Homo sapiens: one gene and its partner. The protein of the gene in region 1 purifies or fractionates together with the protein of each later gene. This does not show direct contact. Each region holds a gene or a part of one and is shown on either strand. Other genes may lie near its edges.

The links. The genes of interacting proteins can lie anywhere in the genome.
Region 2: the proteins of ADCK2 (region 1) and PDK2 purify together in Homo sapiens (affinity purification with mass spectrometry; one large-scale study listed by BioGRID and IntAct). This does not show direct contact.

What each region holds. Positions count from the first base shown.
Region 1 is NC_000007.14:140,679,445-140,682,944, reverse strand, and holds part of ADCK2 (uncharacterized aarF domain-containing protein kinase 2), read right to left. Parts: intron 1,904-3,500; coding exon 1,808-1,903; intron 1-1,807. UniProt on the Homo sapiens protein: The function of this protein is not yet clear. It is not known if it has protein kinase activity and what type of substrate it would phosphorylate (Ser, Thr or Tyr).
Region 2 is NC_000017.11:50,101,851-50,105,350, reverse strand, and holds part of PDK2 (pyruvate dehydrogenase kinase, isozyme 2 isoform 1 precursor), read right to left. Parts: intron 3,499-3,500; exon of another isoform or gene 2,955-3,498; intron 1-2,954. UniProt on the Homo sapiens protein: Kinase that plays a key role in the regulation of glucose and fatty acid metabolism and homeostasis via phosphorylation of the pyruvate dehydrogenase subunits PDHA1 and PDHA2.

The DNA of each region.
Region 1 (3,500 bases):
ACTACAACCTCCATCTCCTGGGCTCAGGTGATCCCACCTCAGCCTCCCAGGTAGCTGGGACTAAAGGCATGCTGCCACCAAACGTGGCCAATTTTTGTATTTTTTTTTTTTTTTTTTTGTAGTGACAGGGTTTTGGCATCTTGCTCAGGCTGGTCTCAAACCCCTGGGCTCAAGCAATCTCCCCGCCTCAGCCTCCTGAAGTGCTGGGATTATAGGTGTGAGCCACTGCACCCAGCCAAAACTCTCCTATGTTTTAATCTGGGCACTGGGATGCTTTTTAAAAATTCACTAAGCATCATTTAAGATCTGAGCACTTTATATTTAAATATTATTGGAATTCAATTTTTTAAAGTTAAGGGCAAAAATCTTCAAAATGAACTTATCTGCCCTTGGATTAAAGTCCAAACTCTTTCACAGATTTACTAGACCCTTTGTGGTCAGGCCCCTCTCACCTCCTCAGCCTCCTCTCACCTCCTCAGCCTCAGCAATCACTGCCCCCTCCTTCAAACTCTCTTCCAAGCCATACTAAGTGCTTTCGTCTCTCCAAGAGCACCATGCAGTAGCTCACCCCAGGCCTCAGCAAAGGCTATTCTCTCTAGACAACTCCCTGCCACCTGTCCTTATGTAGTGACACCTAGACCTTCACACTGCAGCTGAGATGGAGCCACTTCCTGAGTGAATCCCTGGGTTAGCACAGTCTCCTCCGAAATGACCTTTTGGTACCCCGTACCTATCCCTATAAATCATTTACTTAGTCGTCACCTATCTTCCCAAGGAATAGTATGTCACGAGCATTGTAATTGTGTCTGTTTTGCTCACTGCTGTAACCCCAGCCCTTAATTCAGTGCCTGGCACCTAGCAGGTGCTCAATAAACATTTGCTGAACAAATGAGCAAAGCAGCATTTAAAATAAGATATTGTCTCAGCTGTTTGCTAAACTACAGGCAATGCTGGCAGAACTGGGTCATGGTCACCCTTCTTCTCACAGCACACAGAGCATGAGCCACTGACAAAGCACTTAAGAGGCCGGGCATGGTGGTTCATGCCTGTAATCCCAACACTTTGGGAGGCCAAGGTGGGAGGATCGCTTGATCCCAGGAGTTCAAGACTGCCCTGGACAACATAGTAAGTCCCTACAAAACAATTTTTTAAATTAGCCAGGCTTGGTGGCTCATGTTTGTAGTCCCAGCTACTCAGGAGGCTGAGGAGTGAGGAGGCAGGATCACTTGAGCCCAAGAGGTTGAGGCTGTAGTTCATGGAGATTTTGCCACTGCACTCCAACCTCGGCAACAGAGTGAGACCCTATCTTAAAAAAGGAAAAAAAAGGCCGGGTGTGGTGGTTCACACCTGTAATCCCAGCACTTTGGGAGGCCAAGGCGGGTGGATCATGAGGTCAGGAGATCGACACCATCCTGGCTAACATGATGAAACCCCATCTCTACTTAAAAAAATACAAAAAATTAGCCAGGCGTGGTGGCGGGCGCCTGTAGTCCCAGCTACTTGGGAGGCTGAGGCAGGAGAATGGCGTGAACCCAGGAGGCAGAGCTTGCAGTGAGCCGAGATCACGCCACCGCACTCCAGCCTGGGCGACAGAGCAAGACTCCATCTCAAAAAAAAAAAAATAAAAGAGCTTCACAGACACCATGGCCATTTATGGTAGCCTCCACTCTTTCTAGACCAGACTTTCTCAACCTGGCGGCTTGCTGCTTCGCTCTCCTTCCCACCCAGATAGCCAGAGTCCCAGCCCACTCCCCATCTGCAAGCTGACCACATGCTGGGCCTGAGCCCGCTCCAGCCATGAGCTCACCATCTTCAGGAGCATGTTGATCCCCAGCCGTGCAATCTTCCTTTTCAAGTCCACGGGAATTCCTGCCTGCTGGTAACTGGACACAGGCACACTCTCCTTCAGAAAGACCAGGGAGAGAACAGCTTAATCCCAGCCAGCCTGTGATGCTGGCTCCTCCTCCCACGTGGCACCACAGCGCTGTCTTCTCACTTATTGGGAAGTAACCCAAAGAGTATTTCCTTTCCTAGAACCCATCTGTCATTCAGCCATGTGCAGTGGCTCACACCTGTAATCCTAGCACCTTGGGAGGATTGCTTGAGCCCAGGGGTTCAAGACCAGCCTGGACAACATGAGGGAGAACCACCTCAACTCGGAAAGTCAAGGCTTCAGTGAGCTGAGATTGCGCCACTGCACTCTAGCCTGAGTGACAGAGACTCTGTCTCAAACAAAACAAAACAAAAATCTGTCATCCACACATTGATTTGAACTTATTTACATTCCCTTCTATAACAGCTATCAGAAGGATGACAAGTCACATAGGTTTATTGAAAAGGAAACCTATCAACTCTGCTACTGAAGATAAGAGATGTGATGTCCTGAAAAGATAGGGGTGGGCACCAGAGAGCTGGTTTCTGGGCAAGAATCAGCCAATAGGGGTCTGGGCAACGTAAGGAGACCCCCATCTCTACAAAAAAAAAAAAAAATTACCCAGGTGTGGTGGCTAACACGTATAATCCTAGCACTTTTGGAAACCAAAGCAGGAGGATCACTTGAACTTGGGAGTTTGAGACCAGCCTGGGCAACAGGGAGAAACCCAGGCTCTACAGAAAAATACAAAAATTAGTCGGACATGGGGATGGTGGCTCGTGCCTATGGTCCCAGCTACTTGGGAGGCTGAGGTGGAATGATCACTTGAGCCCAGGAGGTGGAGGCTGCAGTGAGCCGAGATCATGCCACTGTACCACAGCCTGGGCAACAGAGCAAGACCTTGTCTCAAAAAAAAAAAAATTGTCAAAACAACCCATGGAGATAGATCTTGTTATCCCTAATTAACAAATAAAAGAACCAAAGCCCAGAGAGGTTAAGCAACTTGCTCAAGTTCACACAGCTAGAAACACTGTGTGGTTCATGTCACATTCATGAGATTCCCTGAATCTCATATCACCATCTGTAAAGAGGAGGCTGGGCTGGGTGCAGTGGCTCATGCCTGTAATCCCAGCACTTTGGGAGGCCAAGGCAGGCAGATCACTTGAGGTCAGGAGTTCCAGACCAGCCTGGCCAACACGGCAAAACTCCATCTCTACTAAAAAATACAAAAATTAGCCAGGTGTGGTGGCACACACCTGTAATCGCAGCTACTTGGGAGGCTGAGGCACGAGAATCACTTGAACCTGGAAGGCGGAGGTGGCAGTGAGCTGAGATCATGCCACTGCACTCCAGCCTGGGCAACAGAGTGAGACTCTATCTCAAAAAAAAAAAAAAAAAAAAAAAAAAAAGAGAGAGAAGGCTGAACTAGAGTAGAGGATAGCTAGGGCAAGTGAGATGACACAAGGTTGTTCAGCACTTTCTCTGTGCCCAACTCCTTGTTTTGCATTCAGTGTGTCATTTACTCCTGAGACAATCCTCTAAGGCAGGTCACCAACTAATAAAATGGCAGAGCAGATTTTCAAATCTAGGGGATCGGGCCACACCCAGTGTTCTCAGCTACCTCACT
Region 2 (3,500 bases), on another chromosome or scaffold:
ACACAGCCTCAGCTTCAGGTGGCTAGCCCCTCCTCACCCACTTCATTCAACTGGGCCTTGCTCTTGTCCTGCTCCTACGCGGGCCCCACACAGAGCTGCCGACAAGCCGCCTCACTATTTTTCTCCATCCATTTCATTTGTATGTGAGTCTCCCTGACAACCCAGTCAGTTATGCAAGAAAACTTCAAATTTGCTGGTCCCCCGTTTAGCACCTTTGCTTTGGAATCCTAGAATAGTCCTCTCAGAAGGGGCTTGGAGATGATCCCATCTAAGAGGACTCACAGATCAGGAGACTGAGGCTGAGATGGGGCAGGGAGACTGGACCTAGCGCCTGCAGTGGGGGAAGGCAGGGAGGTGCATCAACTTCTCTGAGCCCCAGTGTGGAAACAGCTCCTAATGTTTCTCCCCGCCGGGGTGTTGTTGCATCCAGTGGGCACAATGGCAGAAGGGCCAGCACAGGGCCTCCTGGAGTGACCCCCGGCAGAGGAGACAGCACGGGGCCTCCCAGAGTGACCCCTGAGCTGGGGTGATCTGGGCCAGGCACCTGCCTCGGCAAGTGGATTCTAAAATGGCAGGTGGGAAGGACCCAAAGGTGGGGTGGGCGTGCCTGGCTCTGTCCCCAGGTGGGGCTGGGGCCCATGGAGAGTCCAGAGAAGCTCACTCTACTGCAAAAGGCCAGGTAGCAGTGGGTGATGCCCTGCCACCTCCTCCCATCTACAGGCCTGATGGGGAGGCCAGTTTTCCCTGGGCTAAGAGAAGAGCTTGATGCTCTAAAAGGAGCATCAAGAATCCCTGAACTTAGCCAGGTGTGGTGGCTCACACCTGTAATCCCAGCACTCTGGGAGGCTGAGGTGGGCGAATCACCTGAGGTCAGGAGTTCAAGACCAGCCTGGCCAACATGGCAAAAACCTGTCTCTACTAAACATGCAAAAATTAGCTGGGCATGGTGGTGCACGCCTGTAATCCCAGCTACTCGGGAGGCTGAGGTAGGAGAATCGCTTGAACCTGGGAGGCAATGGTTGCAGTGAGCCGAGATCGCTCTATTGCACTCCAGCCTGGGTGACAGAGCAAGACTCTGTCCCCCCAAAAAATAAGCCCTGAACTCAGGGACAGCAGCAGGCCTCCTTCTGCAAGGGAGTCAGGTCCACCTGTGGTGGCAGATGGTACCAAGCTGGAGCCACTGTGCCCCGTGCCCTGGGGAGCCATGACCTGTTTCCCTGCTAACATGTCCAGTCTGTGGCTTGTTCCTTTGGGGAAGGCAGGAAGAGCCTCTCTCTGGCAGAAACACTTATAACCAGGAGGAAGGGGGGGCGCTACCTAGAGCCCTGCAGTGCCAAGGGCCCCAGGGGCCCAACAGTATTTCTAGAAAAGGCCCCTCCACACGAGGACTCATTCCCATGTCCACAGTGCTCTGGCCTTCACTGTAACCTGTAACAGGCAGACAGGCAGGAATCAGCCCCACGCACAGCCTCCCCCAGGGAGGCGTAAGCAGCCCCATAGCTAGTAAGTGGGATGATGAAGCCCCCGAGTCTCCAGCGCTCTTGCCACTCCAGAGTGCTGATTCTGCTCGACTCTCACCTCCACGCTTCTGTTCACACAGTGCCCTCTGCTAGGAATGCCCTTCCCCTTAAACCTAGTATTGCTGCTCTTCTCGCTCTTGCCTGACAGAGAAGAGAGTGAAAGAACCAGCTCTGGACCCAGACCTGGCTCTTTAAGCACTTGGAGCTGTGTGGCTCTGGGTAAGTCATGGAACCTCTCTGGGCCTGAGTTTGCTCATTAGGAAAATGGGGATTGTTATATCTATTTATGACTGCTTTGTGGTGAGAATTCCATGTGATGATTAGCACAGTGCCTAGCACATAGTGAGCACTCTCTAATGCTTGCTCTTATTATGGCTGGTGGCTCAAACACTGTCAACAGCTGCATGCATCCTCTGAGCCCCCAGGCAGCATCTGATACTCTCCCACTGCTTGTAGGCTCTGAATCACAGCATGTTGGAGCCCCTGTGCCCTGGAGACCTGCCCCACTGCCACACGAAGGGGGCTGTCTCAGGCCCAGAGCTCACCGCCCACCCCTCCCTACCCAGAGCTCTGCACAGAGCCCGATAGGAGGAGCTGTGGCTGCTGATGGGGCTGGGGGCCCCAACAGCAGAAAAGATCAGCCTTTCTCTCAGCCCCCATCACCATCCCTGCCACCCCAGCAGACAATCAGGCTGGCACTCCTAAGACCTCACCTGTCTCCCTGGAGAAGAACATAGCGACCACTAACACCCACTTGTGCCGAGTCCCACACAGGGTCTCTCATCTGCCAACAGCCTTGATGAGCACAAGGTATTTCCCTGTTTTTGCAGACAACGAGACCAGCACTGAGAGGTTAGTGATATGCCCCAGGCCACATAGTAAGCAGCAGGTTGGGATTCAAACCTAGCTCTTGCAGACTCCAAGTCTACACCACGTGGCCAACGGCCAACACGGGCCCTGACGGTGATGCCGCTGCTGATGGTGATGGTGGCATTTACTGGGTACCAATAGCCAGGTCCACCCTGTGCTTCCCTCCTGCCCCACTTTCACCTCCACAAGAACCCCAGAGGTGGGCGCTACTGCTGGACCCATTTTACAGATGAGGAAGTTAACACACAGAGCTGAGATTCTCTCATCCAGGCCTATGTGGCTCCGAATCCCTTGCTCCCTAAACGCACCCAAAATAGACCTTCATGCTCATATGATTCTTAGGGGAGAGAGGGCCCGCACACAGGCAGTGCTAGGGGCAGGTGGGGAGAGGAGGGGGAGGAGACCCACTGCAGAGTGGGGCCTGAGGCCCCTTCCCAGGAGGCAGGTGGGGATGAAGCGGGTGGGAGCTGGGAGGCTAAGCCACTTCCTGACTGTGCTGGGCAGTGGGTGGGGGTGGGCATGGTCAAAGTCCCAGTCTCACTTAGGGAGAGTGCCCCAGCTGCTGGCACCACCCCTTTTGTGGCTGCTCAACAACCCTAGAGGGCAGGAATGGGGCCTGGTCACGTGGCCACTGAAGTGGAGCAAAGGGCACCGGCATGGAGTGACAGCGGGCAGCGCCTGCCAGCCTCCCTCACAGGGCCAGGGCTCCTCCAGGGCAAGGGGCCCAGGCTACTCTTGGAATGGAGGGGAGAGGATGAGGATTTTCCCCGAGGTCCCTGGCCTTGCCCTGAAGCCCCTCAGGGGCCTGGTGCACCAAATGTCAACCTTGGGCCGGTTCTTGATCCTAAGAAGGGAGATTGGGGACGAGTGGCGCTGGCCTCTGGGCTGCCCACCCCTTGCAGGCCAGAGAGAGAACTGGGCTTATATAAGGGAGGCCTGAAGCAGTGGTGCAGTGACAGACAGGCACCAACAGGCGGGAGAGGCATTGCCCCCACCCCTCCCCAGGACCTGCAGGGAGGCTGGGGTCTCTGGGCCTGCTGACCTCTGCAGTAATCAAGGCCCCCAGGAGTCCCTTGGTGAGATCCGGAGCTCCCAAGCCCAGCCCAAGGT